Homo sapiens: one gene and its partners. The protein of the gene in region 1 purifies or fractionates together with the protein of each later gene. This does not show direct contact. Each region holds a gene or a part of one and is shown in the gene's direction. Other genes may lie near its edges. The genes, in order: KCTD7, CPNE3, KCTD3, EFEMP1, ANXA6, CAD and CLN5.

Region 1 (3,291 bases):
CGCCCGGCTGCGTGCGGTCCAGCGGAAGGCCCGCTTTGCCAAGCTCAAGGTCTGTGTCTTCAAGGAGGAGATGCCCATCACCCCCTATGAGTGTCCGCTCCTCAACTCCCTGCGATTTGAGCGGAGTGAGAGTGACGGGCAGCTTTTTGAGCACCACTGTGAAGTGGATGTGTCTTTTGGGCCCTGGGAGGCTGTGGCTGATGTTTATGACCTGCTGCACTGCCTGGTCACGGACCTCTCGGCCCAGGGTCTCACCGTGGACCACCAGTGCATCGGGGTGTGTGACAAGCACCTCGTGAACCACTACTACTGCAAGCGCCCCATCTATGAGTTCAAGATCACATGGTGGTGAGTAGCCCCGGTAGGCGAGAGTCCCATCAGGGAGGATGTCCACCTTGCTTGGTGGCTCTGGGAGTAAGATCCCTGAAGGGGCTGCTGACTGCCCCAGAATCTGCCGAGGTGAGAACAGCATCCTGAGGCACAGCTCCCAGGGGACAGAGGTGTAGCTCCAATCTCCCTGACTGCACCTCAGGGTTGGGCTCAGGGCTTGCGGCCTGCAGGCACTCCAGCCAGCGCTCACCTGGCCTTTCCTCAAGGCATGGTAGTCTTTCCTTGAGGCTGATAGCTAGGGCTTGACCAGGAAGTCCCGAGAAGTTTTGTCACCTTCTTGACCTTGCAAGAGAGTTTCTGCCCATTTTAGAGCCACGTTACCAAATCGATGTAGGCCTAATCACTTCCTCAACCCTGTTCAAGCGTCCCTCCCTTGTGCTCAGTATATTGGTGTGAACACGGAACATGATGGGGGATTTACCTGACCAGCCACCCCATAGCCCCTGGCTGAAGAAGAAAGAGCATCTTCTCTCCCACTGCACCCCTTCTCCTCCAAGAATAGTTGCCCACATTCCCAAAATGTGGAAAGACTTTTCTTTTCCTTCCGGAACATGTTCTTCACCACCTTTTGGAGATTTAACCATAGCTGCCAAAGCTATGCACCCAGTTGGCCTTAGAAAACCACAATGTTTACAGCCCTGTCTTAGGGCCGCGGCTTCTCTTATCTTCCACCACCTTCCTTGCTTGCAGGGTTATCTTCTCACAGGGCTGGAATGCAAATTTCAGAGGCTTCTTTTGAAGATTCCCCAAGTCAAGCAGGCAAGATGCCTAGATCTTCTGTTATCTTTGACATGTAACATCCTTTTTAGAGGCTCAGAACACCTCCTTGGCTGCTATCTCATGTGTTAGAATCCAGTTTGTGGTGAACCTCTTTGGAAGGGGACCCCCTCTCTTTAAACCCTGTTCCTCTGTCCTGGTAACATTCTCCTTCTAGGAGAGCCTCTCTTCTGAGAAGGTAAAGGAAGGGCTGGGTGAGACACACAGCTATCCTAGGAGCCGTAGGAAGACAAAACTTCCCTTTTGTTTTACTCCTCACTCCTCTATTTTTGTTTTACTCACTTCTTTATATTTTGTTTTACTCCTCACTCCTGTATATTTTGGTTTACTTACTCCTCTATTTCAGAAATTGAAAAAGATCCCCAAGGATCTGTTACTACTGCATTTCCTTCTTGCTCTGTCTACAGCCTAGGCCAACTAGTCAGGGTCTGGACATGCATCTCCTAAAGGAAGAACTGTGTAGCACCATTGATCACAATGTAACATTTCCATGCTGCATTAAGGGTGTCTCTCTCTAATCATGATTGTACCTGTCTCTTCCTGGGTAAAGGGAGATTTTTTTTTTTAATGTGTAAAGAATTGATGCGAGCCAGGAACATGTCTGTAGTCCCAGCTACTTGGGCACACGCCTGTAGTCCAGGCCACTCGAGCACACACCTGTAGTACCAGCTACTCTGGAGGCTGAGGCAGGAGGATCACTTGAGCCCAGGAGATTAAGACTGTAGTATACTATGATCGTGCCTGTGGCTAGCCACTGTGCTCCAGCCTGGGCAACACCATCGTAAAAATAAATAAATAAATAAATAAATTGGGGAGGACAGCCTCACTGGTATCAGACTTACAGGACCAGATAGACAAGATGGGTATAAGGGGAGCTGAAGTCTGTGTTCATATGAGGAAGAGAAGACCAAGCCCTGGGACTTTGGCTGAATTCCTCCGTGGGGCTGGACGGCAGTGATCTCCTGTTCCCTATGTGTAAACAAAGATTCCAGGGCGTGGTTTTGCACTCCTGTTGTACTCTTTTAGAGGTGGAAAAGAGGTGGATACTGAGATCTAAGAGGAAAGGATAGTCATTCACGTTCTGAGATATGCGCTCTCTCTATTGTTCTCGTACACAAAGGGATAGTCTCTTTTCTGGAGCTGATGTCCCTGCTTGGAGGTTAGCCCCAAAACATGGCTCTTGTATTGTTCTAAGAGAAAAGGCTTTCATTTTGGTTCTTCTGATTGGTGTTACCTACTGCCTAATATGTGTTCATTTTTTGACAGAGAGGCAGACTATTGAAAAAGTCTGTGTGAACAGAGAGCAGTTCATTAAGCCCATTGCTTTCAGTAATGTGGCCTTGACCCCTTCTGCTTCCCCCTTCTCCCATGGAGCATGGCAGGGCTTGGTTATTTAGAGTCCATACATGCAAGCCATTGAGAGACTTGTTTGCTCAAATGCAAGTTTGCTCAAAAACAGGTCCTGAAGGCTTGCTTAGGATTACAGGGATGCTGGGTAAGAACACCGTTCCTCTCTCTCGCTGGAGAAATCCCTGTTTCTCTGACTCCCTTTGTGATCCTCACAGTAATGTATTCTGTGCCACTGTAGGACACAAGGCTCTGGGCCAGTAGAACAGGCAGAGAGGTGACACTGGGCAGCAAGCTGAGAGCTCTTTCTAAATGGAGTGAAGGAATTCAGTGGCCTAGTTTCGCCATTCTCTAATGAGAAACCAAGGCCAGGCTGAAAAGTGCAATTAGATGTGGTGGATTGTGGTAACGGCCTCCAGATAAAGGGGTTATCCCTGTGGAAGTGACTTTTCCCCATTTGATCCCTTTTCAACTCTAAATGGCCAGGCCCAGAACAGAAGAAGGGTTGGGTCTGGAAGGAAGGCTCCAAAGGATGAAAGCTTCTCCCTGATCATAAGGAAGTGCATCTTTATAGAATTGTTGTGCATAATGTCAGTAAATCCCTCTCACTTGACAAGGGACTGGATTCATCTTGCCTTGAGACGGGCCAGTAGTTATCAGTGAGTCAAAGCAAAGTGAAAGTTTCAGGAGATGGGACCAATGGTGCAATGCTCGCCATAACAAAATTCCTTAAAAATAAAAAAGCTAATGTTATAGCAACAAAAAAAGACTGAAGCA
Region 2 (3,522 bases), on another chromosome or scaffold:
ATTTGCCTTTCTAGATATTTTATTTTATTGTGGAAAACTGTAAACATGGTCAGATTTGGCTTTTTTTTTCATTAACTGAGCAAGACTTTCAGGATATTGTAGATGCACAGATGGTAGGTTGTCCTGAATTCTACATTATTAGATTACTTTAATTGAGATTTGTTAAAACGGTTAGGACTGTTTTGTCCAGGAAAGATAAGAGGACCAAACATATAAGGTGAAATTCAGAATTCCGTTTCCTTCTAACTAATGAAAAACTGCTTACTAAAAAAAAATTTTATACTTTCCTTGCTAAGGTCCCATATATTGATTTGTACAGATCCACTTAGTCATTTTCTCCTTTTTTTAAGAACCATTTTCATCTGATTTTTAAACTCACGATACCAGTTATCTGTTAATCAAAATTGCATTTTACAATTTAATAATGTGATATTTCCTATGTCTACAGCATACCTTATTAGGTATAAAACCTACTGCAACTTAGAAAAAGGAAAGAAAAAAGAAAACTTTTCCAACTGCTGCATTAAGATAGGGTGGATTTTATGTGCTTTTTTTTTTTAAGAGTTGAATTTCTTTTCCTGACTTTTACCTTTTACAGCGTATTACTTAGTGAACATTACATTTTCAGAATAGATCCTAATATTTTATTGAGGGCCTATGTGCTAAAAACTATGCATATCTATATATTGGCCAATTATCTTTAATAATTTACCTTTTGAAATTGCATGTTTATCATATATCCTTAAGTGGACACATACAGTGCCATGTTGATGTGCCTCTCAGTTTTATTGAAAAGCTGCCCCACAGCCCATGTCTCTTGTTCTCTGCAATGCCTCAAGGGAGTGAGCTCTCAACCACAGATAGCTGTGGCTTCTCAGAAGCAGCTCATTGCCAAGGCCAGGCTGAGAGGGGACCTGCTTGCTGTGGTGGTTGCCTAGCCCAGATGAGCATTTACCTACCACCTTCCCACTTGGCTAGCTGTCCTTTGGATATGTGCTGTTAACTGGGGAAGGCATCTAACTAGTAGCCTGCTACTCCATAGTATGGCTCAATAGATGACACATCATTTTGACATTATCAATAGGAGAAAAGAAAACTAACCCTTCTTCTGATTGTTTGGAGCCATAGTTGTCTCAGATGTTCTAATTCTCTTTGTATGCTTGGAAACAGCATAGATATGTTGCTGTGGTTTTCAGAATTTTCTCTTTTAATCACAAGAAGCCTTTTAAAAAATGACTTACACATATTCTCAATGTACAGTAAAACAGACAGAAGTGAGCTTATCTGTTTGATGCTGTGGCAGGGTCCCAGTCACTGGGCATATCCTCCTTCTCCTTAACCAGCTCCACAGCAGCCCCTGAGTCACCTGCACAAGGTGCTTGGGAACTGCTGGTTATGAGCATTCCTGGTTTTCTTCAGCCAAATAACAGGTAATCACTGTCAATTGGATTTGGTCTTCATTATTTTATATTCTGATTTTATCAGAATTATTCTATTTTAAAATTGTTTTAAAATTTAAAACATTTAATTCATGATCATGTTCATCAGTAGATGCTATTATTCATAAGAACTGTGATTCCAGCAAACTAGGGTAATTGGTGCCTTTTTACAGTTTTGAATAAAAGCATTTACAATTTCTAAATTATCAGTTTTCACAGTTTCAGCACTCAACCTCATCATACGCTGATTTAATATTGTTTTACATTAAAATAGTCCTTTTCCCTGTTGTGCCACCATTCATTTAAGTGCTGTTTGTTCTTAAAATGCATTTAAAGAAAAATTACCCATATTGACTTTCACACCTCATATAATCAGATCTATTACAAATATATATCGGAGTGACGGTGCCCAGGATAGATGTAATATTTCTTACAGATGCTGGCACAGAGGAAATAATATACCAGCTAATCTAGTCACCTAACCTTGTGGTTAGAATTGCAATTTTAAGACCAGAAAAATTTGAAGTCTGATCAGAGATTTACAACTGTTCATTATAGTGGTGCCTTAGGCAATCTTTCCAAAGTAAATTCAGGGCCCCATTGCTACTTATGCCATATTTGGACATACTTTTTTTTTCTTCAATTTTGTAAACTTCCTGGAAAGCTGTCTTCACTAAGTATCCCCTAGTCTCTATATATGTGGTTAGTAGTCATGGAAATGACACATAAAGTACGCCAGAAGTTTGATGGAACGTGTTAGAAACTGTTTTGTGCTTTTATGGATGTCATACTTGACAATACATGTGTAAGTTACTAATATATGAATTGATGCTAAATATATCTTACATTTGAATTCCTTTTGGATAAAGTTATTTCTTGATGTGACAGAGTAGTGTGTTTTCATTTTTATTCTTTACATGTGACCAAAACAATAGAAAAGTTAAAAATAAAATATAGTGTTTTAGGTGGCCTTTGACTTCATATTTTACTGAATTAAACAATTTGGGGGATATTATTTTATGGGATTTATTTGTTTAAAAGATATTGAGTGGGTCCAAGATACTCTTCTGGGTACAGTAAAGGAAAGATTCTTAGCTTATAGCTAGAATGGCCTGAGATTATCAATCATGTTAAGAAGGATAGTGTAACCACCTAATTTTAAAAAAAATGTTTTAATTGCTTTTGTCATGGGCATTGGGCAGGACTTTGCCAGTGGTAACCAAGACAGCCACGATTGCTGCCTTTGTAGAAATAATGGTCTAGTGGGGGAGAGAAAACATTGAGCAAGTAATTATAGAGATGTGAGATCTGTGCGTGAAACAACATACAGTAGAGAGAGACCTAACCCATCTGAGAGGCAAGGAGCACTTCCCTGAGGATGTGCCATGTAAGCTAAGACCTGAAAGTTAGCTAGGTGAAGAAGGTTAAAAGCACTTATGAAGCTGTCAGGCCAACAGCAAGTATAGAGTTGAATGTTCTAGGAGTGGACAGAAGTTTGAGTTTGCTGAAATATAAAGTATAAGAGGGAAAGTGGTAAAAGAAATGAGGTGGAGTGGTTGGTGGTGTTTACATCCTGAGGGCCTTTTGGGGCAGGTAAGGGAGTTCAGACTGAGGCTTAGGGTAATGGGATGCCACTAAATTGATTTAAGCAAATGAATGATGTGATTATATTTGTGCATTTGAAAAACCAGAGGACCATACTTTTTAGGGCAGACAGATGAGTTCAGAAGCCCACAGAGTTCCACATGGAACCCTGTGACCAAATGTGGGTCTAGTCGCAATGGCTTTGCCTTGGTGAAGGCCAGATGGCAGAGCTGATAGTGGTCACCTTCTGGCAGACACTCAGCTGTTTGGTCACATACTTTCTAAGTGTCTGATTCTAGGTCTGTTTCCAAATTCTGAGCTTTTCCTGCCTCACTATCAAATTGTCTGGTAGACCCGTATCTTGTTGGTTCCTTAATGGTGCAGAGGCTGGTTCAGACCTGGTGATAATATGTCTTCAGGAATGCCAAACCCTTGCATGTAGCAAGACCATCACCCTTGTCACTTGTCACCAAATAACATCACTTCCTGATCATCACTA
Region 3 (4,458 bases), on another chromosome or scaffold:
ATTTATAGTAAGAAATATGAGATACTTACTTAGATTTAGACTTTCTAAATTTATATATAGAAATACTAGATACAAATATTGAAACAATGTATATTGTTTATACTAAGTATTAAGTTAATTGACTAGTTTGTTTATACACACTTTCATACCACATACCAAAGTAAAGGCTCTGGGATCTGGGATTTTAGCAAAAGTAGGAGGCATGATTTCATGGGACAGTAGAAATTGAGCCTCCTACAAAAATCTGAAGTTTTAAGTTTCTCAGTCCCTGAGAAGACTGGGAAAAGTTTGCCCAGTAATCTTGGAACAAGAAAGTTTGATGTGTGTTTGGTGTCTTGGAATGGGAAAAGGAGATGCAAGAGGAAACCATTAGAAATTGAAACCAACATATTCAAATTAGGAGTGAATTGAAGCACAAAGACTTGCCTTTGTTCTATGAGAACTCCAATTTGAGAAACTGATCTAGGACTATTGACATTTCTAGATACAGATATGACACCAGTTAGAACACTTTCTCAGAAGAGAGCACACAAGAATCCTGTAGAAAGAGTAATTTCTGCTAAAATAACCTCCCAAAACTTATAAACTTCACATGGAAACAAATAACGAAAAGTCATTAAACAAGAAAAAATTTGCAATCCCCAAATTGGAAATAATGGAACAATTAGAAAGCTGCTGTATTGAAGGAATAGGACAAATCAGAAAATGGAGGGAAATAAAATACTGAAAATTAAAAGGTCATTGAAAAAAAATTTTTAATTTTATTTAATGGTTAAATAGAAGCGCAGCTAAAAGAAAATTAGTAAATTGACAGACACGTCTGAGAAAATCATTTCCAGTTGAGCCAAGAGTGAGATAGAAAATATGAAAAAGAAGGAAAAAGTGAGAAAGCATTTCAGATAGGAACAGACTAGAGGAGCCATATTGAAAAAGATAACAACTGCTAACATTTTGGAGAAATGAAAATGGGCATGAATTTATTGATTAAAGAAATGTACCAAGTCTTGGCAGCCTGAATGTTTAAATGTGCTATAATAAAAGATAAATTATGATAAAAAGTATTCATAGAATAGTGACAGTTTGCCTGTCATTAGACTTTGATCAGATTTCTCATCACCAGTAGTAGACACCAGAAGACGACAACGGGCATTCTCCAAATGGTAGAGAAAGTAACTTTCAGCCTAGGTTTTCATACACAGCAAAACTATCATTCAAACCTGAATGAGAAGGGTTTTTTTTCAGAGAGAATTTTTGAAAGGACTACTAAAGAAAAATGCCTTTTGAGAAGAACGTTATATTTGAAGGGGAAGAAATGGAATGCATTAAGCAGTGATTAGGAAAGATGTTGGTAAATACGATGGTAAATTTAGATAAGTGATTATTTAAAAAGTAATGGACGAAGGTTAAAACATCCTGTAAAAAATAATGATAAGTTTACAGGTATAGAGATTGTAGTTAAAAGATTCTAGGGGCCTTATATGGGAAGATAGACTGGTATTTTAAAACTGTAAATTTAAATTTACATGTAGAAATTAGTGGTAATCACTGTGTGCTACCTTATAAGAGAAAAATCCACTTCCATTTTATATTTGTGACCACATGACTGAACCATGCATACTAATCAGTATGGTTTCTTGGATTCTTGCCATGAAGTTGTTAGGACGAAGAAGAGGAGGCCACACAGTGGCTGCTTCCTTGCTTGTGCTGGGAGAGAAGAACTCAGCAGTTGTAACTCACTGTAACTCTGCTTATCCTCTGCTTTCTCTGTTTTCCCGTATGGAGGGGTAGACATGGAAAGAAAGGCAGATCATGATTAAAGGTTACAGAAGGAGAAGTAGCAAGGCTTTAATCCTAGAGCCCATCCTCCCAGAGAATAAATGGTAAAAATGTTTGCCTTTGTGCCTTGGGAAGCGCTAGGCTCCTGCTGCTCTTTCATTGAAAAAAAAAAAAAAAAAAGAATGTATCCAAAGGGAGAAGAATCTCATGGCCTTATCTGTCCCCATTTTCCTGCCATGAAGAATCTGGGGCAGGAGTTGAAGCCCTTTCCTTTAGTGCTAGAACTAAAATGATTTAGCTAACTTGAGTAAGAAAATTGGTTAGTGGTGTGTAAAGCAGTCTCCCCTCCATCCTTTAGACATCTTTACTGATATCACTGAAAAGTACTCAATGTTTTCCTGGTATAAAATGTTTTGGCATTGGCTTTAATTAAAAGCCTGACCTCAGGATAGGGCATGATGATTGAGTTCTTTGAGATATTTCTTGTGTAACTCATAACTGCATGACATTGAGAGGGTACAGAAATTAGGATTATATACAGGAAGAGCTTAGAGGAATGATTATTTCCAAGTTTTAGTTATTTCTGTTTTTAATTAGAATGAACCTAGATTCTGTGCTTTTTTTACTTGCTCTTCAGATATTCCCTTTCCCCTTGCCCTACCTAACTCATAGTTGACTTCAGTCTTCAAGCTTCACTTCCTCTGTGAACCTTCCTTGATCTTTGCTCTTCACCCACCAGCACTGAGATGGCAGTTCTTCCCCTCTCTCCTGTGATTGTATTGTAGTCTATTTTAGTGCCTGTCACACTATAATTGTCTGTTATTTTTCTTTCTCACAAGTTACCAGCTCCTAGAGAGCAAGGGGATACCTCACATCCCTTATCTCTAGTTCATTGTTTGTTTTCTTGGATAATATGTGGTACATAAAAAGTACTTAAATGTTAAGCAGATAATGTTTAGATTTTAACTTTTCAAATGAAAGCCAGGTATAGTATATGAAAAGTAAAAGTCCCTTAACATTTTTAACTTTTAAATTATTGGAAATCTTTTAGACTTGTATGCAAAACTTGGTGTCTTAGTAATTCAAATGTCATCTGTGAAGAAGCTTAACAGGCTTGTCTGGCCTGGCTGTAAACAGGGAAGATTCATTTTGATGAATAGTAGAATATCACTCTAGTAAAATAGTATTGCAACTATCCTAGCAAACACATTTTTTTTTTTTTTTGGATACCAAGTCTCACTCTGTTGCCCAGGCTGGAGTGCAGTGGCACAATCCCCGCTCACCGCAACCTCTGCCTCCCAGGTTCGAGCAATTCTCCTGCCTCAGCCTCCCGAGCAGCCGGGATTACTGGCATGCGCCACTACGCCCAGCTAATTTTGTATATTTAGTAGAGACAGGGTTTCACCGTGTTAGCTAGGCTGATTTCGAATTCCTGACCTCTGGTGATCTGCCTGCCTCGGCAGGTTTCTTTTAGCACAAATATGGGAAGGTATTAATTTGTAAACTAGATTGATTTTCCTGGAAAAACTAATTTTTTTATTCCTATACTTTAAAAAAATAAATACAAATGAGACTTTGTTTCCCTTGCCATTTCCTAGAAAAGAAGTAACCTTTAGCAAGGAGAATGAAAAATAGAGAATACCACCTTTTCAGAGAAATAATAAATTATCAAGGGAGCAAGTACTTTCTGGAAATCAGTTGCTTTGTTTACTAGTTCTGATTCTGTCACTTGCTTACTGTGTAACTTTGGACAGGTCATTTAATCTCTTGTATGAGAAAGGGAAAAGAGAGGGACCTGGTCAGACTCGGCCTTCCAGTTCTAGTGGGCTGCAATCTAGTGATCACATGCAAAAAAAGAGGAGACAACCAATCGAAATTGAGAAAGGAAAGTACTGCTGTGGGAAATACAATTTAAAAAAAATATTTTGAAGGAAGTATATTGATGGTTCTCCTCTGTAGCATGTTTGTGTATATGTGTGTGCACGCGTGCACCTAAAGAAAGTTTATTTCCTAAGCCCTACTAAAATTGGATATTGGTTGCCTCTTTACCAGAAGAATCAAAGTTTTGAGGAAATTGACCAGAAAATAGAAATTATAATTACTATCTAACATCTGATAATACTCTCACTACATCAGGTTCAAGATGTTGTTCCTATAACTAGTTATGACACTGCTGGATCATTCCTTCTGCTTGGATGTAACAATGGATCAATATATTACATAGGTAAGTGTTCAGTCACTTAAAATGCTCCTGCTTAATGTAATTTTTTAAATGAGAACAAGAAAACATTACCTTTCAGTTTTAAATAGATATGCTATTTATTTTAATGCTGTTTAAAATTTTTATGTTTTAGATATGCAGAAGTTCCCCTTGCGAATGAAAGATAATGATCTTCTTGTAACTGAACTGTATCATGATCCTTCAAATGATGCTATTACTGCTCTGAGTGTTTACCTCACACCCAAAACAAGTTAGTACATGGCCAATTATATACATTCTTGACTTTTTATCTTTTTATTCATTAGTTTATTATGTGACTAGGTCAAATTAAACTGGTTTATTTCTTTTTGAGAACTGCAGTGCCTAAGGATTTCATCTCTACTAAGTCTAAAATTTGTATTCAGTTTTATACTGAAGTCAAACATGACCAGTAAACAAACATAATTTGAGGTGGAAAATTG
Region 4 (4,458 bases), on another chromosome or scaffold:
TAACCATTGAAAGCTTTTGCCCAAGTGCACCTCGTGGTGAGGATGATGATAATTTATTAAGGACTTCTCGCGTGCCAGACATCATGCTAAGTGCTTTGTCTGCATTATATTTAATCATCACAATATTCCTAAAGGGTAGTTGCTGTAGTTGTCATCATTGCTTTACAAATGGGAAACTGTGGCTTAGAAAGTTCATCAGTGGTTCCCAACCCTAGCTGCCCATATTTAGAGTCACTTGGGAACCTTTAAAACTTCTCGATGGCGAAGCTACACCCCAGCCCAGTTAAATCACAGTCTCTGAGGTGGGTTCCAGGCATCGGCTTTTTTTTCAGTTCCTCATGTGCGGCCAAGTTTGAGAACCAGAGGTCACACAGGTGCTAAGTGCAGAGCTGACCTTCCAACCCAGGAAGGCGGGTGCCAAAGTCACAGCTGGCAAAAGTCACCATCAGGTTATTCACTGGGAATTTGAAATTATGCTGTCAAGCTACTCTACAGATGTACCCCTTTGGTTTCTCAAGTTTCTTTTCATCGAACTTGCCACAGACTTATTTTCCTCATTCAGGAGTAAAGAAATGGGGCTCCTGCTTCTCATTACCTTGGAGGGATTCTCCCCCACTCACGTTTATATCTCTTTTAAGCTCTCATTTGACGACGTTTCACTTATATCACTTGCACCATGGCATCATCTGCCTAGGGTTTTCTGTTTATTTTCACAGAGCATACACATCACTGTGTATTCTAGAAACAGCTGTAGGCTCGTATTAGCAAAGTGATAAGAATCTGGGGCTTTGAAGACATGTAGGATATTAGCTAACTGAACTGTGCTATGAGATTGTTTCCCTTTCTTCTTGGCAAACCATTTCAGAGCAGCCTGGTGTGGAGACTGTGTTACTGAAATGGGGCCATAGGAGCCTCCAGACTCCTTTCTCCCTGCCAGAGGCTGATTAGGTAGATCCCATAGTGCAGAACTCCATGTCACCACCACATACGTGTATGGCACACGTGGGCCAATGGAAAGGGTCCAGGAGTTCTTACTTTCTAACTGGTCATGTGTAAGGAAGAGAGCACCTTCCTCCCTTAACACCAAGGGTTTCAATAGAGACCACTGAGCTGCTACATTAAATGAAAGATGCATTTTCTTGTGCCCTGGGATGCTGCCCCTTATTCACCCGTGTTTAGTTTTATCTTCTGTGTAAAAGATACTCGAGTTTAAATGGCTTAAAAATGAAGCAAGGGGCTGGGCACGGTGGCTCACGCCTGTAATCCCAGCACTTTGGGAAGATGAGGCGGGTGGATCACCTGAGGTCGGGAGTTCAAGACCAGCCTGGCCAACATGGCGAAACCCCATCTCTACTAAAAATACAAAAATTCTCTATGAATGGTGGCACATGCCTGTAGTCTCAAATACTAGAGAGGCTGAAGCAGGAGAATTGCTTGAACCTGGGAGGTGAAGGTTGCAGTGAGCCGAGATCATGCTACTGCACTCCAGCCTGGGCAACAGAGTGAGACTCTGTCTCAAAAAAAAAAAAAAAAAAAATGAAGGAAACTTGTCATGCTCTGACTCTTATTTATTTCATATTTTGTTTGTAAGCTTTAAGTACCCCACATCAAGACCTAACCCATGTTGTGATGGTGTCACTTTTCAGAGGGTGCATCGTATTAGCATCTGTTTCGTGTTACTGTCATGAGTCAGAATTCCAGTATTGATGATGAATGCTTCAGCATCTGCTTGATATTCTGATATTGAATTTAAGGATTATGTCAAGGAGATAAAATGATGAGGTTATTCTTATACATGTATTTGGGTTAATACTGATAAAAAAAATCTTGAGTTTATTTAAGATAGACCAACTTTTAATTGTGTTATTTAGTTATATAACTAGACTGGAAAGTTTGGTAGTATTTTTCCCAAAATCAAAAAATTTTGCTGAAAAATTCTTAAGTATCAACTTTTATATACTGAATTATTTTGAATACTTTAGATGTGTACTTTAATGGTACTTGGGAGAAAAAAAAACCAGATAAATGAATGAGTCATTTCCCAAAGTAGTTTGTAGACCGTCATTGACATTTATGGTTGAATTCAAGAACAATGCCCAGAACTAAATGAAGAGGTCCTAGAATAAAATATATTCAAGACTTACAACATGTATTGGTTACGGTAGAAACTGTACTGTGATTAATGAAAATAAAATCCTATTTAACTTTTCTAGAAAATATTTAGACTACCTAACAAAGTAAGTTACGTTTCACATAGTAAAACATTTATAGTTCTTTCTTCTTTGGGAATTTTTTTTAGTTATAAGCAGACTATTAAGTGCCTTGCTTATGGAATATGCTAAATACATACCTGTTGACTGTGTGCACACAGGTTATTTCCAACCCAAATTGATCTGTGTAATTCAGCCAGTTTCTAAAATTTGGGATTGGTGTCTATACCATTGAAAGCAGGGTTAAAAGTTTTTTGGAAGGCTTAGGGCTTAAGTTGGATTTCTTCCCACCTCACAATTTTGCAAAGTGCCCATAAATGTGGATTTACTTAATTGTTGATAAAAGGGGGTTATTTCATATGATAACAACAGGATAATCTGTCTAGGGAATTTGACTAACATAAGTCGAGTCACACTTGTGCCCATTTCTTATTGAGCTAATCAAACATGCAGTCCAGCTTCTTCTAATTGCCTGCAGATGTATGACATTCTCATTCCAGGCCAGCAGCACAAAATAATATTTTATAACCAATGTGGAAGTATGGGGACCTCTGTTTAGAACAATAATGTGCTCTAAGGACCTATATTATTGACATCATCATGGAGTTTGAAGAGTCTTCTGTTTTAATAAAGATCTCCACTCCCTTTTAAATGTTGCATATTTATGCCCAGTAATCCAGACACATTTCCTATGGTCTACTGGATAGAATAAATGAATCTTACAGATGAGTCTTATTTGCATAAAAATTATTTCTTTTTTCTATGTATATTTTTTAGCAGGTATAGTTTATCATTATATAACCTAAAACTCAGGACATTTTAAATGTAAGAACTGAAATCTGTACTGTGTTTCAGTCTTCAAATCAATTGTGCCTTTGAATGCACTATACCAGTCACAGATGGCTTCTAAATAATTTAAATAATACCACTAGATATTTTAAATGTACACTATTTTATAAATATATCCTTTAAATAGCTGTCCATTTAACTGTTTAATGAAAACATGATATGTTTATTCCCCTTCATGTATTTTTGGGGGTGTTTTCAGTTTTGTACAAAAACAAGGAGTTTGAAATACAACATAACATTCAAAGATCAGGTCACAGTGAGCAGGTTTTTTTCAGGTAATTTTTTGCTAAATGAGGATCATGCTGTGGGAGCCAGTAACGCTGGGAGTTTCCCATGACTGACATTATTCTTGGCATCTATAAAATGAAGATCATTTCAGTGTTACATACCTGGGGCCATGTATAGATAGAGTTTTCGAAATTAATTGTTTCCATTAGATATCATCTGCCTCAAAGACAACAGATACTCATCTACACCAAAAAGAAGTTGAATGAATGGGGAATATATTATAATCTGTTGATGGCTCACTTTAGTTTTCTACACCTTTATTGCATAGTCTCTTTCTCCTTTTTTTTTGAGACAGAGTCTCACGCTGTCACCCAGGCTGGAGTGCAGAGGTGCTATCTTGGCTCACTGCAACTTCCACCTTCTGGGTTTAAGCAATTCTTGTGCCTCAGCCTCCCGAGTAGCTGTGACTACAGGCGTGCACCACCACACCCTGCTAATTTTTGTATTTTTAGTAGAGATGGGGTTTCACCATGTTGGCCAGGCTGGTCTCGAGCTCCTGACCTCAGATGATGTGCCCACCTCAGCCTCCCAAAGTGCTGGTGTTACAGGCCTGAGCCACTGTACCTGGCAATAGTCTCTATATAATCTTTCTAAAGGAGATGGAGTTAGAAATCACTAGATGAAGTTGAGAAAGGATTTTTTAAAATCATATATAACTTTCTAAGACTTCCATTCCTGTATTAAAAAAAAAAAGTCATTTGGGAACTGACAAGAAAGAGAAAGCATTGATTGCCCTAATTGAAGAAACTTGTTTGTTTAATTGAACTTTAAAAAAATTAAAACACATGGCATTTTGCATACCTGGTAATTAAGCCACTAATAAACCCTGTCAGGACTTACAGGCATGACTACTAACTTGGTAAAGAAACTGTGCCATCGAGAAATGAACTCAGTACGAATGTCCAATAAAGTTGATTGTAAAACCAAATCGAGTACAGTACCTGGCTTATGTTGTATAAAGTATCATTGAGAAATATGAAAAAAACATACCCTAGGGTTTCCACCATCTCTGTCTACCAGGACTGTCCAGTTTCAAAACCAAAAGCTCCATGTTCCTGGAAATGCCTTTGTCCCAGGCAAATAGGATGGTTGAGCCCCTAGCATACCCACA
Region 5 (4,458 bases), on another chromosome or scaffold:
GAGGTTGGGGCCCTGGGAAGGGCTGGAGGTGAAGTCATTTGCATCAAATACCAGAAATAACCCAGCCACAGCTGTCATGTATACCGGTGCTTTGTTGAAGAAAAGATATAAGTTATCTTTCAAAGGTATATCCCATATGTAATATTGGTATATTGGTGAGGTGTACTTTGGAGCTTTCTTTATTCATTCAGTTTTTAGATATTATTGAAGTAAAATACCTAGCATGTGCTAGGCACTCTGCCAAGCATTTAGAAATCACTAATGAACAAAATCAAGTGGTACCGGGAGAGACAGGCATACATTAATCACACAAACACCTTCTCTATCAATATACTGTACATTGCAGGTGTTTTGAGTACCCAGTACATGCCAGCAGCACTACAGGGGCTGATACAGAGAATGCTATGACATAGTCCCTGTTGTTGAGGAGCTCATGCAATAGTGTGGAGATAGACAGGTGAAGAAATCATTATCATATACAGTAGATCAAAGTGATAAAGAAGTAGAAAGCTATGGGAGCCTAGGAGAGGGAGGAAAGGAGGGAAATAGAACTGTGCCTGGGGGCATCGGGAAGTACTTTGAGAAAAAAATGGAATACTTAATCTGGGCCTTGAAGGTTGAGTAGGAGTTTCTCCAGAAAGAAAGGAAGAAAGGCATATAGGTATAGTCATGTACCACATAATGGTGTTTTGGTTAATGATGGACCACATATATGATGCTAGTCCCATAAGATTATGGACCAGATATGTGATGCTAGTCCTATAAGATTATAACCCCATATTTTCACTGTGCCTTTTCTATGATTATTTATGTTTGGATACACAAATTCTTGCCATTGTGTTGCAGTTGCCTACAGTATTCGGTAAGATAACACGCTGAACAGGTAGGTGTGCCGCCTAGGAGCAATAGGCTATACCACGGAGTCTGGGTGTGTAGTAGGCTATGCCATCTAGGTGTGTGCGAGTGCTCTATGATCACACAATGGCAAAGTCGCCTAACAATGGCAGTTCTCAGAATGTATCCCCATCATTAAATGATGCATGACTGTTTTATTTGCAAAGGTCTTCAGGCTACCAATTACTCGTGTGTTCAGGGATCAGGCAGCAGTTCTGAGTGGCTTGGTCAGTGTGTCCTGTCTCCTGAGGTTTCCTCTTTCAGTCAAGTGCCACCTCTTCCCCTTCAGGACCTATACGAGGCAGGGGAACTGAAATGGGGAACAGATGAAGCCCAGTTCATTTACATCTTGGGAAATCGCAGCAAGCAGCATCTTCGGTTGGGTAAGCTCCAGAGAAGACCTGAAGCTGCTCCCTTGGGTTGATGCCAATAATGCCTTTCTTTATCTCTTTTCTTTTCTTTACCACTAATGGAACATGATACCTACTTCATTCCCAACCCAAACTTTAGTCCTGAGTTTATTAGGTTGGTGCAAAAGTAACTGCGGTTTTTGCCGTTTTTAAAGGAATGGCAAAAACCGCAATTACTTTTGCACCAACCTAATATCAGACAGCAGTTTGTATAGTCCCTCAGCAAAGTCATTAACAGGATGCTTGGCCTTCCATCTCAGTGCCAGTCCTGTCTCCATGTTAGGGGATGAGACACAGTCTCTCACCAGCTATGAAGCTCATCTGCACAGCGCTGGTGATGTGCGTGACCTCCCAGTCGCCTCCATCATAGCACCAGCCCTAGCTTCATGGTGGACAGTCGTCCTGGCCACTGTGCCCCCCTGCTCTTGAAGTCCTCATTTCTTCTCGGGGGTACAGAGGCACTCTCAAACCTCCCTGTCTCTCTGTCTGACGCAGTGTTCGATGAGTATCTGAAGACCACAGGGAAGCCGATTGAAGCCAGCATCCGAGGGGAGCTGTCTGGGGACTTTGAGAAGCTAATGCTGGCCGTAGGTATGTCCTGACGTTGCATTCCTGGGGGCTTTAGGGGATTCTGGAACACTGGCCTAGGAACAAGGGGCTGAGAATGGAAAGGGGAATTACATGGTATAGAATTGGGAAGGAGAAAACCATGTGGGCCGTGAATTCTAAAGGTTTCTCCAGGGCAGCATGGCTGAGGCTGGGGACGGGAAGGGGGTTTGAGCCTCAGGTACTGACTTCCTCCAGCTCCCTTCTCCACCACTGGCAGGGGGACAAAGAGCTCTGAACTTGGGTTGAGGATAATGATGATCATAATAGTTGACTTTTGTTGAGCATCTAGTGCATGCCAGGCACTGTGCTGAGTGTGTAATCTTTAAAAAAGACCCAGCAGTGGCCACTGCCATGATCTCTATTTCACAGATGAGGAAACTGAGTCTCACCAGGCTGATCATTTCCTGAGGGGTAGTTTTGTAATGAGTTGGGGGTACTGAGAACGTGAGGATGTGAGGAACTGGCTAGTCAGTGGTGGAGCCAAGATTCAAACCAGGGCTTCTCCCACATGGGCTTGGAGCAAGTCACTTCTGCTTGCTGGACCTCAGTTTCCTCATCTGTTAAGTGGGGTGCAGGGTGTGGGGGCAGGAAGGATGGACTGCCTTAATTGCCTCCCCAGAAGCCCTTCCAATTCTGGCATTCCAGCAGTTAGCATGTCTGAGTCAGGGATATGTTGTGTGTTTGTATTTCTTGGGGGAAACCTGCAGCTCCTTTATCGTCCCTCCCAGAGCCATCCCCTGCCCTCCCTGTTTGAAGTAGTCAGCCAGTGGGACTCACGGTGATTCAGTGGGATTCACAATGATTCAGCTGCCAGTACCTTTCTGGTGTAGCAGGTCTAAAAAACACCTTTTCCTCCTTCGCCCCAGACCCTACCCCCACCCCAGCTCAATTCCCTGTTAAAACCAAAAGGACTAGAAAGATAAAGGCGGTCTTTGTGATGGACTTCAAAAGGATTATTTCAACAAGATTATTTCCTGTTTATTCCCTGGGTGTGCGGTAAAAGTGGGTTGGTCTGGGGTGATCTGGGGCTGTGAGCTATCAGGAACGGTGGTTCTTCCTGTATTGAGCTAGGTGGCCCTCAAGGAATAGAAACAAAGAGGGAGTCAGGCCATCCCATCCCCCTTCTGAGGCAGCCAGAATAACTCTACCTCTTCCTCCCTCTTCACAGTGAAGTGTATCCGGAGCACCCCGGAATATTTTGCTGAAAGGCTCTTCAAGGCTATGAAGGTGCGTGGTGGGGCTGATGTGAATGGGGTTTGGGGAGAGGACTATTGGGAGTCTTTGACAAGTCCTTGGGATCCAGTGGCCAAAGAGAGCCCTTCAGGGATGGCCACAGGACTGACCCTGGTGAAGGTGCTCTGTCGCAGGTGAGCTGTAGAGCCAGGAATGCTGCTGGTCACATGTCCTGCCACCTGCATACCTGCCTGACGTCATGAGTCAACAGATGAACTTAGGGTGGCAGCCTGCACCTGATCCCTCCAGCCAAATGGGTTGGCGGCTCGGACTTTGAAGAAGTATTAACCAGAATGTTTTTATACAGCGTATGTAGGCAAGACCACTTTGGCCTTGCCTGCTAAGACTCATGATGCTCACCCTGTGACAGTTCCACTCTGGGTGTGTTTCTGAGAAAGCTTCCCAGGCTTTTACACATATGACGCACAAAGAAACTGGTATTTTTGTGATGCACTGGAGGAAATGAATGCAGTTATTTGCTGCCAGAGGCCTGAGGCCCGAGACACAGGAGCTTGGGCCTTTCTGGCCCTGGTTGGCCATTCCGAAAGGACAAAGTAGACTGTCGGCCATTCTCTGCCCACCAGTGTGCCATAATGAGGTTGGGCAGCTCAGCCCTAGAGAGATGTTTGCCTGTATGCATGAATTCATTAAGAATGCCCATCACAAGGCTGAGTGCATGCAGTGGCTCACACCTATGATCCCAGCACTCTGGGAGGCCAAAGTGGGAGGATCACTTGAGGCCCAAAGTTCAAGACCAGCCTGGGCAACATAGTAAGACCCTTGTCTCTACAAAAATAACAAATAGAACTAGCCAGGGACTGTGGCACATACCTGTAGTCCTAACTACTCGGGAGGCTGAGGCAGGAGGATTTCTTGAGCACAGGGCCCCTGGGTTTGAGGCTTCAGTGAACGCAGTGCTATGTGATCACGCCACTGTACTCTAGCCTGGACAACAGAGTGAGACCCTGCCTCTTCAAAAAAAAAAGAAAAAGAAAAAAAAAACTTATAACAGTATTGCTTATATTAGGAAAAAGCTAGAAACAACCCAGTGACCATCAGGAATAGTACAGCAAAAACCTAAATGCACAGTGGTATATTTGCAGAGTTCCAAAATGTGTAAATCTAAGTGTATTGCTTAGAGTTACAAAGCTATGGTAAAATTATAAGGAAAATCAAGTGTGGAAATTATACATGAAGAGAGAAGAGGTTTATAACAGTGAGAGGGCCGGGCATGGTGGCTCATGTGTGTAATCGTAGCATTTTGGGAGGCCAAGGCAGCCCTTGAGGCCAGTTCAAGACCAGCCTGGCCAAC
Region 6 (4,458 bases), on another chromosome or scaffold:
TGAGGGCATGCTGCCAGCCCTGGAGGAGACTTCCTTCTCTGGTCCAGCAGAATCATAGGCACCAGGGCTGGGAACAGTGGGCTATGTGGGGCTCGTTAAAGGAAGAGACAATCCTAGAGTAAGTGAGAGAAGAAAGTGGCCCTATGTCCCACTGTCTGTGTCCCCCCGCTAGGAGATTGACGTGGATGCCGTGGCCTCTGATGGTGTGGTGGCAGCCATCGCCATCTCTGAGCATGTGGAGAATGCAGGTGTGCATTCAGGTGATGCGACGCTGGTGACCCCCCCACAAGATATCACTGCCAAAACCCTGGAGCGGATCAAAGCCATTGTGCATGCTGTGGGCCAGGAGCTACAGGTCACAGGACCCTTCAATCTGCAGCTCATTGCCAAGGTAATAAGGCTAAAGGAAAGAACTAAAGGGCCACAGCTCTTGCATGTTCTGTGCTGGCCACAGTGCCATGAAGCCCTGCACTGTCTCCTGCCTTCATCCAAGTAGGCAGGGAAGCTGGAGGGAAAGGGCTGTAGCTAGAGCTCATGGTGTTGGGGCTTATGACAGTCAGTGACCCTGAACCCTGCTCAGTCTGATCCCCCAGAGCTGAGGACGGAGAGGAAGAGTCTAGGCCTATAGATAGTGTCAGCAAGGCCAACCTGCAGAAGGCCTGACCAGTCTTCTCTGCCCCAGGATGACCAGCTGAAAGTTATTGAATGCAACGTACGTGTCTCTCGCTCCTTCCCCTTCGTTTCCAAGACACTGGGTGTGGACCTAGTAGCCTTGGCCACGCGGGTCATCATGGGGGAAGAAGTGGAACCTGTGGGGCTAATGACTGGTTCTGGAGTCGTGGGAGTAAAGGTAAGGAATATCGAAACCCTTGGGGTTAGCAGAAAAATAGCGGGAGAGAGTTCACTCACCACACAGAGTTGTCAGTATGTAAACCAGGCACTGACTGCAAGGCATTGCCGGATCGTGGGGGTAATGAGGTGGTCATTGTCCCTTAAGAGCTTACTTTATGGTAATGGGAGGGAAGAGAAGTTGGATCCCCAAAAAAGCTTTGGTATAGAACAGTCCGTGGTAAAACTACATATTCGACCTGTAAACAGAATGCTGCAGGAGTTCAAGAGACAGGAGGTGCTGCTTCCAAAAGGGGTGATCTGGGAAGGCTTGAGCGAAGGGGTGCTATTTGAATTGAGTTTTGAAGGATGGTTAAGGTTTTTTATTTGCAAGGGCACATCCTAAGCAGAAGCTGAGGGATGACCCCAAGTACGTTTGGAAAGCAGGAGGGCACACAGAGAGGGCAGGCTGACCCTGCCATTCAGATGGGATCAAGCACAGGGTACTGTGTCCGTCTCTGCTGGTGAGGGAGGAGGTCCTCTCACACCTTGGCCCTCTCTCTTCCCTCCCGCCCCTTTAGGTGCCTCAGTTCTCCTTCTCCCGCTTGGCGGGTGCTGACGTGGTGTTGGGTGTGGAAATGACCAGTACTGGGGAGGTGGCCGGCTTTGGGGAGAGCCGCTGTGAGGCATACCTCAAGGCCATGCTAAGCACTGGCTTTAAGATCCCCAAGAAGAATATCCTGCTGACCATTGGCAGCTATAAGGTATCAGAATCCAGGAGGGCTTCCCGAGGGCCGTGGCTCCCTGGGCCAGGGCTGACCTTGAAATGGAAGACAGGAAGAAAACAATTTCATCCTTCTGTTTGGTTTCAGAACAAAAGCGAGCTGCTCCCAACTGTGCGGCTACTGGAGAGCCTGGGCTACAGCCTCTATGCCAGTCTCGGCACAGCTGACTTCTACACTGAGCATGGCGTCAAGGTGCAGGAACTCTGGCAACCTACCCCACTGCTGCCCTTCCCCAAGGGGGTGAAAATACTGCACCAAAGAATTATCTGGGCTGGGCACGGTGGCATATACCTGTAGTCCCAGATACTCAGGAGGCTAAGGCAGGAGAATCTCTTGAGCCCAGGAGGTAGAGGCTGCAGTGAGCTGCGAGTGTGCAGTGAGTGCACCACTGCACTCCAGCTTGGGAAACAGTGAGATGCTGTCTCAAAAAAAAAAAAAACAAAGAATTATCTCCTATTCCCCTGCTTTTATTATTACCATTATACTAGTAAGCTATATTCCATGCAGAAAGCAGAATACACAGGAAGCAAAGAGAAAAGTCTCTTAAAATCTCTGTACCACTGTTCTGATATTTTTCCTTCCAGGATTTTCTCTGTGTACATGTGTGTGAGCTCATACTGCACCTAGTCCTTGGTAACCCATCTTACTTAGTGTAGATATCTTTCCTGCCAAGAAATACACTTTGCCAGTATCAAATAGAGGCAGCCCTCAGTGCCCACCCTATGGGTCCTCAGTCTCCTCATCATGGGCTCCTGGGCCAGCTCCTCTCCCTTAAGGCTAGCCTTCCTGACCGCTGCCAGACAGCTTGGCCCTGACCTTGACTCCGGGTTGGCAGGTAACAGCTGTGGACTGGCACTTTGAGGAGGCTGTGGATGGTGAGTGCCCACCACAGCGGAGCATCCTGGAGCAGCTAGCTGAGAAAAACTTTGAGCTGGTGATTAACCTGTCAATGCGTGGAGCTGGGGGCCGGCGTCTCTCTTCCTTTGTCACCAAGGGCTACCGCACCCGACGCTTGGCCGCTGACTTCTCCGTGCCCCTAATCATCGATATCAAGTGCACCAAACTCTTTGTGGAGGTAACTGAGACCCATGTGCTGGGAGGGAGACTGCCAGTGTTGATGGGAAGAAGAAAGAGGGAGGAGTGAGTATGGAACAGCCATGCTAGTAATAAAGCTTTGTGGCTACAGAGGGAGAGATGGTGGGTATAGAGTGTGCAGAGCCTGGTTTATGGGAAAACCACATCTCTCCCTACAACTCCCAGGATCACCCTTCCCTTAAAGCTGACTGCTTTCCACTTGCAGGCCCTAGGCCAGATCGGGCCAGCCCCTCCTTTGAAGGTGCATGTTGACTGTATGACCTCCCAAAAGCTTGTGCGACTGCCGGGTAAGTCTTTGGGGAGAACTTGGCTTCTGAACACTGGCAGCCCCTGGCATAGAGACCTGCAGTGTGGTGAAGGATGGCTGGGGGGCCCACTCTTTGTCCTGGACTGCACAGACTGTGAAGACCCCAGAATGTTTCTCACTCTTTCATTCCTTAATCCACAGTGTCCACAGTGGCCTTGTCTGAGGAATTTTTTTTTTTTTTTTTTTTTTGAGACAGAGTCTTACTCCATCGCCCAGGTTGGAGTGCAGTGGTGTGTGATATCGGCTCACTGCAACCTCCGCCTCCCAGGTTCAAGCGATTTTCCTGCCTCAGCCTCCCAAGTAGCTGGGATTACAGGTGTGTGCTACCACACCAGGCTAATTTTTGTGTTTTTAGTAGAGACGGGGTTTCACCATGTTGGTCAGGTTGGTCTCGAACTCCTGATCTCAGGTGATCTGCCCACCTCGGCCTCCCAAAGTGCTAGGATTACAGGCGTGAGCCACCATGTCCAGCTCACCCTTCCTATTTCTGAATCTTCCTGTAATCTTGCTGCTTCCATTTTCTCCCAGGATTGATTGATGTCCATGTGCACCTGCGGGAACCAGGTGGGACACATAAGGAGGACTTTGCTTCAGGCACAGCCGCTGCCCTGGCTGGGGGTATCACCATGGTGTGTGCCATGCCTAATACCCGGCCCCCCATCATTGACGCCCCTGCTCTGGCCCTGGCCCAGAAGGTGAGCCACTGCACTCTTCCTGGTATTGGAGACCCATATGCCCCTACCAGCCACCCTTGCTTCCCTGAGCCCTTTTCCTTCTGCCCCGCCCTATGGGCCCAGGCCACTGGTGCCAGGCTAGCCTGTGTGGGCATGGGTGCCAGTGAGCCTTACCTCTGTGTATCCTCTCCAGCTGGCAGAGGCTGGCGCCCGGTGCGACTTTGCGCTATTCCTTGGGGCCTCGTCTGAAAATGCAGGAACCTTGGGCACCGTGGCCGGGTCTGCAGCCGGGCTGAAGCTTTACCTCAATGAGACCTTCTCTGAGCTGCGGCTGGACAGCGTGGTCCAGTGGATGGAGGTAGGGAGTGTGCATGTGGCAGGAGGCCACCACCCAGTGTCTCCTGGCTTGTGGGCCCCTGCCTAAGTGGGCTGGTAGCAGTGAGGATTCAGGGGAGCTCCTGGGGACTCTGGGCTCTGATGAGCACAGTCAGAGATTCTGCACACTCCTTCATCAGTTCTTTCTGCTCCCAGCATTTCGAGACATGGCCCTCCCACCTCCCCATTGTGGCTCACGCAGAGCAGCAAACCGTGGCTGCTGTCCTCATGGTGGCTCAGCTCACTCAGCGCTCAGTGCACATATGTCACGTGGCACGGAAGGAGGAGGTAAGAGTACACCTGAGATCCTGCTGTCCCTGTTGCTTTCCCAGTAACACCAAAGGTCAGGGTAGTCCTTAGGGGCAGGAGACAGCAGGAGGAGAGTCTGGAGACA
Region 7 (3,537 bases), on another chromosome or scaffold:
AGATGGAGTAGATATCAGATAAAACAATTCACGTTTAATATGTAAATGTACCAATTATGTGATTCAGTTTCAACTTTCAAGTACTTCCTGAGAGGTTAGTACATTATTATTGAGCTCTCACAGAAAGCTTAATCATAGATATAATTAACCTGATCCAAATGAGTAAAGTGGACCTTAGAAAGGCTAAGTGATCTTTCTCTGGCTATCCAGCTAGTAGTAATGAAGTCAGGTCTTGAACCCCGGTTCTGCTGACTGAATTGGATGCACTATAGTACAGGCTTTTAGCACCGAAGTGTGGTCCTCAGACCAGTGCCTGCCAACCAGATGTTACTGGTCTGTGAGGAAATAAGTACAGATACTGACAGGAAGCTTTTATAAACAATTTATTGGAGTGTTTTTGTTTCTGTTGGGTCTAATTAAAAAAATTGGAGCTTGTATTTTATGTGTCTTTGGTCTTATTTTGTCTAGGAATTCATTTTTGCTGGGTTTTTTTTTTTCAACTGTAGTCCCACAACAGTCTGAAAATAACCCAGTCACCAGATATCTTCCTCAAATACAGAGGGAGAACTTTCTTTCACGCCTCCTTTAGCCTGTCGACTCCTTATAATAATGCCTAAATATTCCAAATTAATACTGCCTCTTTAACCTGCTAATTGTTTTCACAATGTTACAAGAAAACTTGGATCTGTGCATTATCACCATCTAGTGGCTAAACTCAGGCAACACGAACTTCTACCAAACTCAGGAAATTGCTCTGGAAAAACTACAGGATTTTGGATTTCCAGAACTGCCTTGAAGAGACAAAGATTCTTGTACCAAGTTTTGGTCAACTGCAAATCAAAGAACTTGGTTATGCAGGGAAAACAAATGAGGATATCTGTACCTGGAACTTTTAAACAAGATTCTAATAGTTATGTGAAAAAAGCATTCAAGATTTTTGAGTAGGCACAGTGGCTTACGCCTGTAATCCTATCACTTTGCGAAACTGAGGTGGTGGAAGGATCACTGAAGGTCGGGAGTTCAAGACCAGCCTGGCCAATGTGGTGAAACCCCGTTTCTCCTAAAATTAAAAAAAAAAAAAAAAAGCTAGGGGTGGTGGTCCATGCCTGTAATCCCAGCTACACGTGAGGCTAAGGCAGGAGAATCACTTGAACCCAGGAGGCAGAGGTTGCAGTGAGCTGAGATGGCGCCACTGCACTCCAGCCTGGGCGACAGAGCGAGACTCCGTCTCAAAAAAAAAGCATTCAAGATTTTTCATTGTTCCTAAGAATCTTAATTAAATGAAGACAGAAAGCATCATAAAGTCAGGTAACTACAGCACAGACAGCATTAACATTTACAAAAGTATTTCTTAAGAATTAAACCTGTCAGCTCTACTTACAAGATGTAGAGCTTTCAGGTGAAGATGATTCAAGAACATGCTTTCAAAATAGTAGTTGAGAAACCAAAACATAGCCACGCAGAAATCTGCCAATTAAGTTTTGCTGCCCTTTGAGCAATATGACTTAATGTGATTTACTTTAATTATAACTTAAGTACAACTTAAATGCAGTTTCTATTTTGCTATTGTTATAGATGTAGGCTGGGTGCGGTGGCTTATGCCTGTAATCCTAACACATACTTTGGGAGGCCAAGGTGGACGGATCACTTGAGGTCAGGAGTTCGAGACCAGCCTGGCCAACATGGTGAAACCCCGTCTCTACTGAAAATACAAAAATTAGCTGGTTGTGGTGGAGCATGCCTGTAGTCCCAGCTACTTGGGAGGCTGAGGCAGGAGAATCACTTGAATCCAGGAGGTGGAGGTTCCCACGAGCCAAGATCGCACCACTGCACTCCAGCCTGGCAACAGAGTGAGACTCCGTCTCAAAAAAATGTTGTAGATGTATAAAATTTATACATTTTTAGTCTGACTAGGGCTTTAGAGTGAATATATCTCCTCATTAATCTGGCACAAAATTAGTTAAGTAAGTATACCCACAAAGTGTCATCTAATATATTGTTGCATGTAGAGGAAAACACAGTGAAGAAACCTACTAACTTTATTTGGAACCCTCAATATTGGTGGCTCCTTAAAAATTGGAGAAAAAAATCAAGTCTTAGGAAGTCTTATCCAGTTTTATGGTCTGCTGTGGTGGCACTTAATGAATTACCTGGAATTATAGTTCCTGTAAGATGTTTTATTTTTTAAATAGTTGGCAGGCTATACAAAGAGTGATGTTCCAAAACTACACACATGCTTTTTCCCTGTTCACAAAGGCAAACAGGCTGGCCAAAGTGTTTCCAGCATCTTCGTCATATTTACCCTTTATTATCCAAGTGGTTTCCTGCTCTTCAAACCTTCCTTTCAAAATTTTGTCTCCTACTTAAAACAAGTTAGGATTATTTATCCTTTTATTGGACTGATTATTCTAAGGATAAGCTCTTACTTCACTTTCGGAGTAAAAGGCTTTGTGCCCTTTTTAAAGTTGGGTGTCAGCAAGCAGCTGGAATTTTCCTGCCTGGTAAAATTAAAACCAGCCCCACAAACTGGGGTTGGAGTCTGTGCAAAGCTCATTACTATCTATGTGTGGGGTAGAAATTATAGTGTGTTAAAGGACCTAGTGTAAAAAAAAAAAATTTTAAAGGACCTAGTGGAGGCTTGAACCTTCTTCACATGAACGTCTTCCTTTCAGCCTAAAGTTCTTAAAATGCACTAAATTGACTTAATCTTCAATCATACCTATTTTTTCTGATATGGTTACAACAGCCCAAATTACCAAGATAAGTTGAAAGCCAGTAAAACAATGAAAATAATTTCAATAGTTGAAAAACTATTCTAATTTATATAAAGACATTTATCTCTAAAAAGACTGGTTGGGTTCAAGGACCCTTAAAGACTGATTCTATGTCTAAATAATCTGTTTTATAAGTTCTCATTCTGAATGCAGAAAGAACCTATTATTTTCTGTATAAAAATTTAAAAATTTATATTTCATGGTAGGTTTTAAATTTCCTATTTCTTTAGGCATCAGAGCTTATTTCAAGAATAGATTCCATGAGCCTAACCTTGTATCTTCAAAAAGGCGAGTCTATCATAAACATTGTTTAATATTAAATATTATATCCATCAAATATGGATTTGAAACATTTTTAAGTTTAAAGTCAAATGTTTGTGTAGTTTTTAAAAAGTAAAATACAACAGCATTAGTAACTTTTTATTCTCAAAGTGATAAAAGCATTTAACATATACTTTACAGTATAAACAAATTAAGTACTATGCATTTTGCTTATAAAGTGACAAAGTATTTTAAGCATTATATAATTCAATTTGTACAAAAAGTAAATTTCCAAATACAAGCTTTGGTTAGTAGAACTGATTATGTACTGTCAAATCCATTTTTCCAAAGTTGTTCAAGGAAAAACAACAACTTGACTAGCACAGGTAATTCTTGTACAATCAGAGCTTTTTACTATTTAGAAGGAGGGGATATATTACTATAATTGCTGTTAATTTTCGAATCTAGATAAGCCTTTTTTCTTCTCATATGTTGCTGTAGG

What was found.
Region 2: the proteins of KCTD7 (region 1) and CPNE3 purify together in Homo sapiens (affinity purification with mass spectrometry, with the first as the bait; one large-scale study listed by BioGRID). This does not show direct contact.
Region 3: the proteins of KCTD7 (region 1) and KCTD3 purify together in Homo sapiens (affinity purification with mass spectrometry; one large-scale study listed by BioGRID and IntAct). This does not show direct contact.
Region 4: the proteins of KCTD7 (region 1) and EFEMP1 purify together in Homo sapiens (affinity purification with mass spectrometry, with the first as the bait; one large-scale study listed by BioGRID). This does not show direct contact.
Region 5: the proteins of KCTD7 (region 1) and ANXA6 purify together in Homo sapiens (affinity purification with mass spectrometry, with the first as the bait; one large-scale study listed by BioGRID). This does not show direct contact.
Region 6: the proteins of KCTD7 (region 1) and CAD purify together in Homo sapiens (affinity purification with mass spectrometry, with the first as the bait; one large-scale study listed by BioGRID). This does not show direct contact.
Region 7: the proteins of KCTD7 (region 1) and CLN5 purify together in Homo sapiens (affinity purification with western blotting; one study listed by BioGRID). This does not show direct contact.

What each region holds. Positions count from the first base shown.
Region 1 is NC_000007.14:66,638,881-66,642,171, forward strand, and holds part of KCTD7 (BTB/POZ domain-containing protein KCTD7), read left to right. Parts: coding exon 1-352; 3' UTR 353-1,513; coding exon of another isoform or gene 1,514-1,514; 3' UTR 1,515-3,291. UniProt on the Homo sapiens protein: May be involved in the control of excitability of cortical neurons.
Region 2 is NC_000008.11:86,559,090-86,562,611, forward strand, and holds the end of CPNE3 (copine-3), read left to right. Parts: 3' UTR 1-2,409; downstream 2,410-3,522. UniProt on the Homo sapiens protein: Calcium-dependent phospholipid-binding protein that plays a role in ERBB2-mediated tumor cell migration in response to growth factor heregulin stimulation.
Region 3 is NC_000001.11:215,597,955-215,602,412, forward strand, and holds part of KCTD3 (BTB/POZ domain-containing protein KCTD3), read left to right. Parts: intron 1-3,912; coding exon 3,913-4,000; intron 4,001-4,130; coding exon 4,131-4,247; intron 4,248-4,458. UniProt on the Homo sapiens protein: Accessory subunit of potassium/sodium hyperpolarization-activated cyclic nucleotide-gated channel 3 (HCN3) up-regulating its cell-surface expression and current density without affecting its voltage dependence and kinetics.
Region 4 is NC_000002.12:55,913,187-55,917,644, reverse strand, and holds part of EFEMP1 (EGF-containing fibulin-like extracellular matrix protein 1 precursor), read left to right. Parts: intron 1-4,458. UniProt on the Homo sapiens protein: Binds EGFR, the EGF receptor, inducing EGFR autophosphorylation and the activation of downstream signaling pathways. May play a role in cell adhesion and migration. May function as a negative regulator of chondrocyte differentiation.
Region 5 is NC_000005.10:151,129,913-151,134,370, reverse strand, and holds part of ANXA6 (annexin A6), read left to right. Parts: intron 1-1,183; coding exon 1,184-1,277; intron 1,278-1,799; coding exon 1,800-1,895; intron 1,896-3,081; coding exon 3,082-3,140; intron 3,141-4,458. UniProt on the Homo sapiens protein: May associate with CD21. May regulate the release of Ca(2+) from intracellular stores.
Region 6 is NC_000002.12:27,233,836-27,238,293, forward strand, and holds part of CAD (multifunctional protein CAD), read left to right. Parts: intron 1-172; coding exon 173-391; intron 392-682; coding exon 683-850; intron 851-1,409; coding exon 1,410-1,592; intron 1,593-1,700; coding exon 1,701-1,805; intron 1,806-2,448; coding exon 2,449-2,688; intron 2,689-2,913; coding exon 2,914-2,995; intron 2,996-3,543; coding exon 3,544-3,710; intron 3,711-3,882; coding exon 3,883-4,047; intron 4,048-4,220; coding exon 4,221-4,352; intron 4,353-4,458. UniProt on the Homo sapiens protein: Multifunctional protein that encodes the first 3 enzymatic activities of the de novo pyrimidine pathway: carbamoylphosphate synthetase (CPSase; EC 6.3.5.5), aspartate transcarbamylase (ATCase; EC 2.1.3.2) and dihydroorotase (DHOase; EC 3.5.2.3).
Region 7 is NC_000013.11:77,002,081-77,005,617, forward strand, and holds the end of CLN5 (bis(monoacylglycero)phosphate synthase CLN5), read left to right. Parts: 3' UTR 1-3,037; downstream 3,038-3,537. UniProt on the Homo sapiens protein: Exhibits palmitoyl protein thioesterase (S-depalmitoylation) activity in vitro and most likely plays a role in protein S-depalmitoylation.